2 separate regions of the Homo sapiens genome follow, and region 1 is linked to region 2. The links come from fine-mapping of genetic effects on gene expression. A gene starts in region 2. The other region holds a variant in brackets. All regions are shown on one strand. Distances are between the middles of the regions.

Region 1 (5,370 bases), 46 kb after region 2:
CTATGTTGCTGAGGGTATTTTTCACTATTTTCAGAGGTAAGAATTTATGCATACTTTTCTACTAGGAGACATATTTGTCACATTTATAAATCATGCTATTTTAGCTTTATAAAATGAATAGGAAGGCTTTTCAATATGAATTGTGTAGTTGAAATAGTTTATATATCATATAAAATTATCTTATCCTCAAAGGCTTGAAATAATTCATTTTAGAAACTATTTCAGCCAGGGCTTTCTTTTATTTTTTCCAGAGGCTTAGTTGGCTCTCAACTTAATTTGTACTATGGTTATTGGTCTTTTTGGGTTCTAAACAGTTTTACTCTATTTTTGGTTACTTATATTTTCTAGATAATATAAGTAACCATTAAAAGTTCTTGCAGATCATTTACCACAGATTTAGGTAGTTGTTTGTTTTAAACTTTCTTCTACATATCTGGAGTTAGATTCCCTTTTTTCATGCCCAATGTATTTTTCATGTCCTTCCTTTCTTCCTTCTTCTCTCCCTCCCTTTCTTTTTTAAAATAAATTTTTATAATTTTTTTAAAGAAATAGAGACAGGTTCTCACTAGAGCCCCCCAAAGTGCTGGGATTACAGGCATGATCCAGGGTGCCTGGCCCTCCCTCCCTTTCTTCTTTCCTTTTGTTGATTAGAATTGCAAGAGGGTTATCCTTGAAATCTGTGTTTTCAAAGAATCAGCTCTTGAAGTTTATAAGGAGTTCTACTCTATTCTTTGATTAAGTCATCTAATTTGCTTTTTAGTAGTTTCTTCTTCCAGTTTGTTTCACTGTTTTGTTGAGAAGCTCTTTTTTAAGCTTTTTGAATCAAGTGCTTAGTGTTTACTTCAATACATTATTGAAGTCTATGAACTTTTCTGTGAGTACAGCTTTGGCCATATCAAATTCGATACAGAGTTTTCCTATAAAGGTTATTTTTCTGACATCTGTAATTGGAATTTGAATCTTTAACACAGGTGTGATTTAGGGATTTTTTTTATGAAGTGGGTATTTTGTTTATCAGTTATATATTAATATCCAACTATAGTACATTGTGCTTATGTCATTCTCTCACCTGCACACTTCTATTTGGGGACTTTACTGGGTTTCATTGGTGGTATAACATACGACCATGTGGCAGAGACTCTGGACAGTAGAATGTGCCTTTCTGTTTCTAGACACAGTTTTTCACATATCTTGGTCCCCTGTCCAGAGAGCATGCACTGCAATATTTTCATCCCTTGGGCATCTACCACTTGCTGGGCAATTTCTGGTTGTGAATCTAGCATGAAGAGGTGCTCACTGTGTTTCCTGGGCATAGCTTTGTGTTCTTGGGAGTTTACCTCTAATAGGGTTATAAAAAAAAAACCAATAAAGTGTTTTTCTTACTCTCCACTCTCAGCCATTTAGCACAACATTCTAATACCAGATTCTCTAACATTAAGACAGCAGCTGGGTGCCCTGTAATTCAATTTGGACAATATTGGAGGCGAAGTCAGATCTCACAGGTTGAGAGCTTGGTCCCACAAGGCTGTCCCCCTCCCTCGACTTCAGATGCCATTTGCAAGTCTCAGGTTGTGGCCTGTGCTTCTGACCCACCCAGCAAATCACCACTCCTGGGACTCCTTTCTCAGATTCAATTAATTTGCTAGAGCAGCTCACATAATTCAGGGAAGCACTTGCTTCCATTTACCCACTTACTATGCAGGTTTTTACAGTGGTCACAGATGAACAGTAAGAGGAAGGGATGCTCAGGGCAAGGCATGTGAGAAGGGGCGTGGAGCTTCCCTGTCCTCCCAGGCACTGCACTCCAGGGCCCTCCACCTGCTTGCCTACGCAGAAGCTCTGAAGCCGCTCCTTTTGGGATTTTGTGGAGGCTTCATTATGTGGGTGTGACTGACTGAATCATTGGCCATTGGTGATGGACCCAACCTTCAGCCTCTCTCTTGTCCCTAGAGCTGGGGGTGGGAGTGAAAGTCCCCACCCTTTCATCACATGGTTGGTTCCCCTGACAACCAGCCCCCAGCCAGGCTGTCCAGAAGTCCATCAGCACACAGAAGACACTTACCACTTTGGAGATTCTGAGAGTGTTAGGAGGGTGTGCTGGGAAAAAAGACAGCGTCATGCACCACATAGTGGTCCCCTGAGATTCATAATATGATATTGTCACTGTGCTTTTTCTATGTTTAGCTGTAGAAATCCTTACCGTTGTGTTACAGTTGCCTCCAGTATATTCAGTGCAGTCACACACTGTGCAGGTTGGGATCCCGGGAGCAATAGGCTGTACCACGGAGCCTGGGTGTGTAGTGGGCTGTGCCATCCTGGTCTGTGTAAGTCACTCTGGGGTTTGCACAACGACGAAATCGCCTAAGATGCATTTCTCAGGAGGTATCCCCGTCGCGAATGGACGCATGACTGTATGTGCCCGGGCCACACGGACAGGAAGGGCCAACTTGCAGGCAGGAGGCCTGGGCGGCTTCCAGCTGTGCCCTGTCCTCAGCCCCACACCTGTATCTCATCTGGGAAGTGGAGAGCAGGGCCTCAGAGGCCCCCAGATGGTGTCACAGGGCCCAGCAGGTGGGAGGCCCTCTGCCTACGCCACTCATTGGTGGTGAGGCTTGTGGGCAGTTTTGCAGGGGCTAGAATGCAGCACGGGCCCCTTGGACCCTGGCCTGATTTCCCCCACCCCACCTCGCTGCCCTGCGCTTGCAGCCTAACCTGCAAATGCAGCAGGGGCAGCTCCTCCTGGGTCAGGCCCTGTCCATCCCACAGGCCTGGCTGGCTCCCCCTGCTGTCACCTCACACCATTCTCCTTCTCCGGAGCCCTGTGCTGGTTGCCCTGGGTAGCACATCAGACAGGGTTCCAATCCCAGCTCCACCAGTTTCCCAGACTGGCGCTGGTGACTGAGGCCCTTTGGGCCTCTGTTCCTTCATCTGGAGAAGGGGGGAGCAGCAGGAGGGCCACCCTGGGGAGGCATGGAGACGGCTGTGTCTGGCTTAGGTTCGAATCAGCCTGGTGGCACTAACTGATGTGGGGAGGTTTCAGGATGACTCAGCAGCCAATTAAATGCTTACAAATTCATGGTTTATTGGGACGTTTTCACACCCCAAC[A/C]ATCATGCAAATATATTCCACACACCCAGGCAGTCATAAGAGAGGCGGGAGCGAACCACAGTGTCGGGGGATGGGGAGACCAGCTGCTGATTGCCCAGGGTCCAAGTTCCTTCAGAGCAGAGGGACCGCAGACCCCCGGGTGGAGGGATGGGATCACTCCTCTTCTCCCAGCAGGGCGTCTGGTGGCCTCCAATGGAAAAGAGGCTTCGGAGTTCTCGAGGGCAGTGCTTCTGCAGGTGTCTTGGTCATGAGCAGCTTCTTTGTATTTATGGCCCTCCGCAGGAGTGTCCCTGGCCATCATCTTCAGGTGCCTTTTGACATCACTTTCTTGTTGGGTCTCAGGGATGCCTGGCCACAGCAGATATCATCTGATCATTGCAGTCCACCACACCTATGCTAATCACTCTGAGGGCTCAGCAACTTCACTCTAAGCTGAGTTACTTGTCATAAGTACTCCCCCCCCTTTTTTTTTTTTAAGACAGAGTCTTGTTCTGTCACACAGGCTGGAGTGCAGTGGCGTGATCTCAGCTCACTGCAACGTCCACCTCCCAGGTTCAAGCAATTCTCATGCCTCAGCCTCTGGAGTAGCTGAGATTACAGGTGTGCACCACCGTGCCTGGCTAATTTTTTGTACTTTTAATAGAGATGGGGTTTCACCATGTTGGTCGGGCTGGTCTTGAACTCCTGACCTCAAGTGATCTGCCTGCCTTGGCCTCCCATCGTGTTGAGATTACAGGAGTGAGCCACCACACCCGGTGAGATAGGGTCTTGCTCTGTTGCCCAGGCTCTGTCACCCAGGGATGCAGTGGTATGATCTTGGCACACTGCATCCTTTACCTCCTGGGCTCAAGCAATCCCCCTACCTCAGCCTCCTGAGTAGCTGGGATTACAGGTGTATGCCACTGCCCCTGGCTAATTTTTCTGTAGAGACAGGGATCTCCCTATGTTGCCCAGGCTGGTCTTGAACTCCTGGGCTCAAGCGATCCTCCACCTCGGCTTCCTAAAGTGCCAGGATTACAGGTGTGAGCCATTGTGCCTGGCCGTTTATTTTGAGACCCTAAGGACCACAACACATTATTACACATTCCTGTGCACTGGTACTCTTGGGGCTGGTCAGTGTCTAACCACCGGTTACCAGCCCCCAGGGCCAGGGGACAGACGCACAGCATGTGACAGAAGAGCTGCCTGTGTCCACGGCATGGGGGTGGCAGTCAGGACGTGTGTCTGGGTGCTGTTTCCCAGAGGCTGCCAGACTGAGCATGCCCATGGCTCTGTGACCCAGCAGGGGGCTGGGTGCCCCCTTCCCCTACCCCCATGACTGGCCCAGAGAGAGCTCCCTGCTCCCACAGCCATCTGCCAGGAGGACAATTCAAGTGAGGGAAATGGATTTTTATTTGTTTTGGAACACAAAGGAAAAATCTTTGCTCAGCGTAATTAGTTATCATTTAAAAGTAAAAGAACCATATGTCTTTTATTCCATATCCCAGCACCCTAGGTGGCTGTAGAGGGCGGAGGTGCAGCTCACCCGGGACAGGTCTGTGTGTGGCCTACGCGGCTGGCCATCCCTTCCTGCCTCTGGAGGCCCTCAGCCCTGACCCTGCCCGCTCACTGTCCCTCTCTCTTGGTCATGGGCTGCTGCTTCGGGGCTGACTCCAGGGCTGGCTGGATGTGGGCAGTGTGCCCGGGTGGGCCTGGGCAGGACAGATTGCTGGTGCCTTCCTACTGGAGCCAGCAGGCGCCCTGGCCACTGCCCAGAACTGATGAGCAGCAGGACACCCTGCTCTGTCCTGTCATCATCAGTGGACAACCCATCTAGGACAGGGACCCCAGAGGGGTGATTTCACTTGGGGTGGAATCTGCACACTGCTTCCCAGCCCCCTCCTCCGTGGCACCCTAGGGGTCTCCCTGGAAAGGACAGAACTGGCTACCAAGGTTGCGTGAGTTTGCACATGACCCCATCCAAGCCTGTGCCCAGCTCTGTCCCTGGGAGGCACAGGGCTGCCCACCCATCTACAGGAGGCTCTCGTTACCCCTGCAGAATCTGATGGCGTTGGCCGAAGAGGGAGCGAGGCCAAGGGGAGGGGGGAGCAGGGCTCCCCAGGCGGCTGGAGTGGGAGGCCAGGCTGCCAGCGCCTGCCGGGAAAGGGCAGGGATTCTCTGAAGTCCCACCTGCTGCATCCTTGGGCCTCTTGAGTCTCAAGAATGGAATGGTTCTTGGTGGACAATGATGTTCTATGCCCTGAGCAGGCCCAGAAGAAGCTGAC
Region 2 (5,370 bases):
CAAAAGAGAAGTCAAAATGGAAATTTAAAAGTCTCTTGAGCAAAATGATAGTGAGAAAAAAACACCAATTGTGAGAGAGAGAGTAAAGCAGTGCTTAACAAGCAGATATATAGCTTTAAGTCCATAGAGTAGGAACGAAAGCTGAAAACCAATGAACCTACCCTCCAACTTCAGAAACTAAAAAGGAAGAAGGAAGGAATGAGAGAAAGACAGTTAATACTCCCCCAAAGGAGAGCTACAAACACAATGAAACTAAGAGCAGAGATTCATGAAATAGAAAGTACAACAGAGAAAGCTGAACAAAGTCAAAAGTTGTTTCTTTAAAAAAAATTATAAAACTGACAAAACCCTAACAAGACTGATCAAAAAAAGAGAGTGAAAAACACAGAGGTCCCCAATATCAGAATCCAAGTGGGACATAGCTACAGATTCTACAAACATCTGCGGGATAATATAAAAGATGTTATAAACAACAATATGAGGATGTCAGAAAATCTGAAAATTTAGAGAAAATGGGCAAAATCCATAAAAAACACAATTTGCAAAAGTTACATAGGAAGAAGCAAATAATCTACATGGTCCTATATATTAAAGAAAATGAACCTGTCATTAAAAACCTTTCTACAGTGAAAATCCAGGTGCAGAGAGCTATTAATATTCTCACTGAATGGGTGTATTCTTATTGAAAATTCATGGAGCACAACTTTATGATTTTTGTCTATGCATGTTATACTTACAAAAAATTATCCTTGGGAGGCTGAGGCGGGAGGATTGCTTGAGCCCAGGAGTTCGAGGCTACAATGAGCTATGATTGTGCCACTGCACTCTAGCCTGGGGGACAGAATGAGACCCTGTCTCAAAAAAAAAAAAAAGCTATAAAAGTTTACTTAAAATGAGTAAACAAATAAATAATATGGGGAGTGGTAGGTGGGCATACAGATGAAACAGAATTGGCCATGTATTGATAATTGTTGAAGTTGGGCCATTGAGTTTATTGTATATACCTTTTTAGCCGTTACTATTATAAGCGTTTAAAATCTTACATAATAAAATATTGTTTGTAAAAAATAGTAAGATCATATTACTTTGTGCAAAACCCTCCACCTCCCTCTGAGTCAAAGCCACAGAGGGCTGATGGCTGGCCAGGCTCTTCGCGATATGGTCCACCTGGCAGCTCCTGCAGGCTCCTCTCTACCACACTCACTCATCTCCACTTGGCCTCCTTCTAAGGCATCCTCCACCTCAGGGCCTTTGCATGTACTGTTCTCTTTGCTGAAAATGTTCATTCCTCGGATTCAGCATAGCTTGCCTCAGTTAGGTCTTAGCTCAGATATGATCCTTTCAGCCAAGATTTCCCTGATCACCCAAAATAAAATCCCCAACCCAGCAGGGAAGGGTGGTGGTGAGAAACTACAGTTCTAGCTACTCAGGAGGCTGAGGCAGGAGGCTCACTAGAGTCAGGAAGTTCCAGGCTGTAGAGCATAGTGATTGCACCTGTGAATAGCCACTGCACTCCAGCCTGGGCCACACAGTGACACCTCCCCTTAAAAAATAAAAAAGAATCCCCCACCCTACAAGCTCCCCTCCCCCTCCCTTCGCTGGCTCCCTCTCCCTGCTGGGCCTCTCTGTGGGATCTGCAGCATCTGACACATGAACTATTTATGTGTATTTTTATTCACTGCCTACTTCCCACAAGAATGCAAACTCCAACCAGACAGAGACATTCACAGCCGAATCCCAGTGCCCCATCTTACACCTGGCATACAGGTGTTCAAGACACAAGGACTAAGTGAGTAAGCAAGGTCCTCAGCCTCTTCAAGGGGTGCTGTGGGGCTCCTCCCCATTTTTTCACACAGACCCCTCCACCTGGGGACATCGTCGCCCCAGACCTGTTTCTCACTGGCCCTCGTCTGACTGCCTGCAAGAGTCACTCTGGGCCACCCTGGGGTCAGGCCACAGGGTGTCCGTTCAAGAGAAGGTGACCCTTCAGAGCGACAGGAAGTTCCAGTGGACGCCAGAAGACCTGTGTCCTGCTTTAGTGGTTCTGAAATCTTTCAAGGTGGCTTTGGAGCCTTGCTCTGCCACTTATAGGCTCTGAGACCCTGCAGGGTAACCGCACTCCCTGTGCATCAGTTTACTAACCTGTCCAATGGGAACAAATCCACCACCGACCTTACAGGGCGATTAAGATGGTTAAGGGGAGTGACCCAAGGGGCCAGGACTTGCCCACAGAAGGGCTTTCACCGTCTGATTCCACTGACAAAAATTTTGCCAGCTCTGCGGGAGTCCCCAGAGGGCCTTTTAAATGCGGTGGCCGCATCGCCTCCTAGCTTGTCTGCTGCCTGATCCTTTTTTTTTTTTTTTTTTTTTTTTTTTTGAGACGGAGTCTCACTCTGTTACCCAGGCTGGAGTGCAGTGGCGCGATCTCGGCTCACTGCAAGCTCCACCTCCCGAGTTTACACCATTCTCCTCCCTCAGCCTCCCGAGTAGCTGGGACTACAGGCGCCCGCCACCACGCCCGGCTAATTTTTTTTTTTGTATTTTTAGTAGAGATGGGGTTTCACCGTGTTAGCCGGGATGGTCTCGATCTCCTGACCTCGTGATCCGCCCGTCTCGGCCTCCCAAAGTGCTGGGATTACAGGCGTGATGCCTTATCCTTTTTAAATGAAAGCCTGGCCGCCCTCTCCCGGCGCCCGCCCTGTCCCAGTGCCCTCTGCTCGAGCCCCGTCCCGCGCCCTACCTCCCCCTGCACCTTTGCCCCGCACCCTCCTCCCTCCGCGTCCCGCGCCCGCCCGCTCCCCCGCTCCCCGCGCTCTCGCGCCCGCTCCGTGCCCGCTCGGCGCTCGCTCCGCGCTCGCTCGTTCGCTCGCTCGCTCGCGCTCCCCGGCGCCGGCTGCGGAGGGAGCTGCTCTGCCCGCAGCTGGCGCAGCGCGGGGGCGGCCGCGGGTGGGCGGGTGCCGCGGGCCCGGGCGCCGAGCATGAGCCGCCGCCGGCGCCGGCCGCGCGCTGCTCGGGGCCCGACTGCGGCGCGAGGGCGGCGCGGGAGCGACGCTGGCCCGGACCGAGGTAGGCAGCGGCCGCGGACCCTCAGTGCCTCGGGGCCCCCGCCCGCGCCTGGGGCCGTGCCCTCCGGTCGCCGGCGCGGGCAGGGCGCGGCGTGCGCGGGCCCGGGGTCCCTCCCGGCGCGGCCGTCGTGGGGCCGGGGCGCGGGCTCCGGGCGCGGGGCGGGGGACGCGCGCGGGGAGGGCGGCCGGGATCCCGGCGCGCGGAGTTGCTGAGAACTCCGCCCCGGGCTGGACGGCGCCAGGACCCCCTGCACCCTCCGCCCCTTCAGGGCACCTGGCGGGCCGGGCCGGGCCGGGCCGGGCGTGGCAGGAGCGCACGCGGCGGGCGGGCGTGGGCACTGCGGGCAGGTTCGCTGCCCGGGGCCTGGCGTGGGGGTGGGGGCTGGGGAATCGGAGGAGCTCAGGGCTGCGCAGTTGGAAGTTTCCATTTGCTCTTCTGCATTCTGGGCCCCGCCGTGGTATCTCACGCCCTTGCTGTTTGGCGAGGAATTGGGGCTTGAGCTCTGCATTTGGGGGAGAGGTCCAGGGCCATGCCAGGTGTCTCCCTCTCCCTGCTGGGCAAGGGTCATTTGAAGGACCACGCTCTCTTTGCCCCAGGCCTTGCCGGCCCCAGGAACGGGGCAGGTGCAGCTGGTTCTGGTCCGAGGGTCGGTGAGTGAGAGGTGGGGGCGGGAGTCCCCTGCTGTGTGTGGAGGGACGCGCTGGCAGGTTCCTGTGCCCTGCATTTCTGGCTGCCTCTGGGTGCTGGACCTGGTGGATATTTACAGAGAGGCCGCTGCCTGCCTCTTGGGAGCCACCTGGGGGCAGAGACCTGGTGGTGGCCGGGGCTCCCTCCCTCCCTGCTCAGAGCAGTGAGCTTCTCCCTGGTTCACCCTCCCCACCACTGCCACTCTTCTCCCACTGTCCTGCGCAGGAAGGGCCCCGATGGCCGTCGGCCGCAGGATCCTGAAACACAGGAGTCAGGCTGGGTGCAGGGGAGCCTCCCAGAGGCCTTGGTTCCCTCTGTCCCCCCAGGGTTCTCCCGCCCCCTCCGGATGCAGTCTTGCCAGCCCAGCCTGTCCACCTCGGTGCCCTGGACTCTAAGCGGCTCTAGGGGGCCTCCAGCCGAAAGGCTACAGGTCTTGATTCGTGAACCACGGGCAGGCTGCAGGCTTCTGAGACTCAGTTTCCCCATCTGTAGACTGACACGGTTTTGATGACCTCTGAGGACATTTCCACCCTGATGTCCAGTGACACTTTGCTTTGGAACCTCAGGACCCCAGCCCAGGAAGGGGAGATCCGGAGCAGGGGGACATGGAGGACCTTGGCTGGATGGCCAGGGACACGTGGGTGGGTTCTCTGCCCCTCCAGCCAGTGTGTGTCCTTAGGGCTGTGGGTGGTAGTGACCCAGCGAGGCGGGTGCAGCAGGCCCACACTCCCTGCTCCTGAGAAGGGCATGAGCTGTGTGGATCCCCCAGGCTCTCTAGTGAAGTAGAGAAGCTGTGTCCTCCTGCACATGCCCCTGGGTTTGTGAACCAAGCAGGTATCCCAGGTGTGCCTTGGCCTGAAGGCCAGCCAGTGAGTTTGTTTTTCTCTGGGAGGCATCTTCGAGCTGCCAGCCGGATGGCTCCCTTCCACCTGGCAAATCGTGGAAATGGAACAGTTCACACAGAGCAGAGGGGTTTTTTGGTGTAACTTAGCAACTGCAGGCAGGGGAGGAGGAGGAGGAGGGAGAAATGGCATTTGTGCTGGACAGTGGCTGCGGTGGGGAGAGCCACGCACACAGTGGCCCCCAGCGGTGGGAGGGGCCAGCCAGGGAGGAGAGCGAGTGGGCACTGGGACACAGTGTGGCCAGGAGCCCCTGAGCACGCCGGTCCCCACCTGTAGAATGATGCCAGGGGCAGGATGGGACAGCTTTGGTTGGCCTTTGGTTTTTGGCAATAGAACCGTGGGTTTCACAGAAGCCCTATTTGTCAAATAGGTCAAGTGAAGGTGCTGTGCCAAGGCAGGGATGGGGGCAGGGGGTTTGGCCCCCCCACTGTCCTCAGGAGAGGGGCTGGTGGAGGGATGCTCTTCTCTGCATGGCCCACCCCAGGGGAGGGGCGCTGGGCTGCTGGGGGTAGGTGCCAGGGGCATAGCAGATAGCAGATGGGGAGGAGACTCAAGGCATTCTCCCCCACCCCTCCCTGCTGCCCCTTGACGGACCCTCCCTCCCCTTCCCCCTTTTTCTCCTGAGGCCATCTGCTTGGGTCCGGCACTCTGGCTGCTTTTCTGTTGGAGCTTCCAATCTGCCTCCTGTAACTCCCACCCACTCCAGCCTGCCTCC

What was found.
Region 1: its variant is fine-mapped to the expression of RASGEF1A in blood mononuclear cells (TOPMed, PIP above 0.99).

Annotation. Positions count from the first base shown.
Region 1 is chr10:43,218,996-43,224,365 of GRCh38, reverse strand. The region is part of intron 1 of RASGEF1A (RasGEF domain family member 1A); the gene reads left to right. Among named protein-coding and RNA genes, the nearest start is that of RASGEF1A, 45 kb to the left of the region's middle. The variant A/C (reference allele first, on the strand shown) is at 3,107.
Region 2 is chr10:43,264,541-43,269,910 of GRCh38, reverse strand. It overlaps RASGEF1A (RasGEF domain family member 1A), which reads left to right and starts at 2,846. Exons shown (of 13, transcript NM_145313.4): 1 at 2,846-3,066. RefSeq lists an enhancer at 3,341-4,216.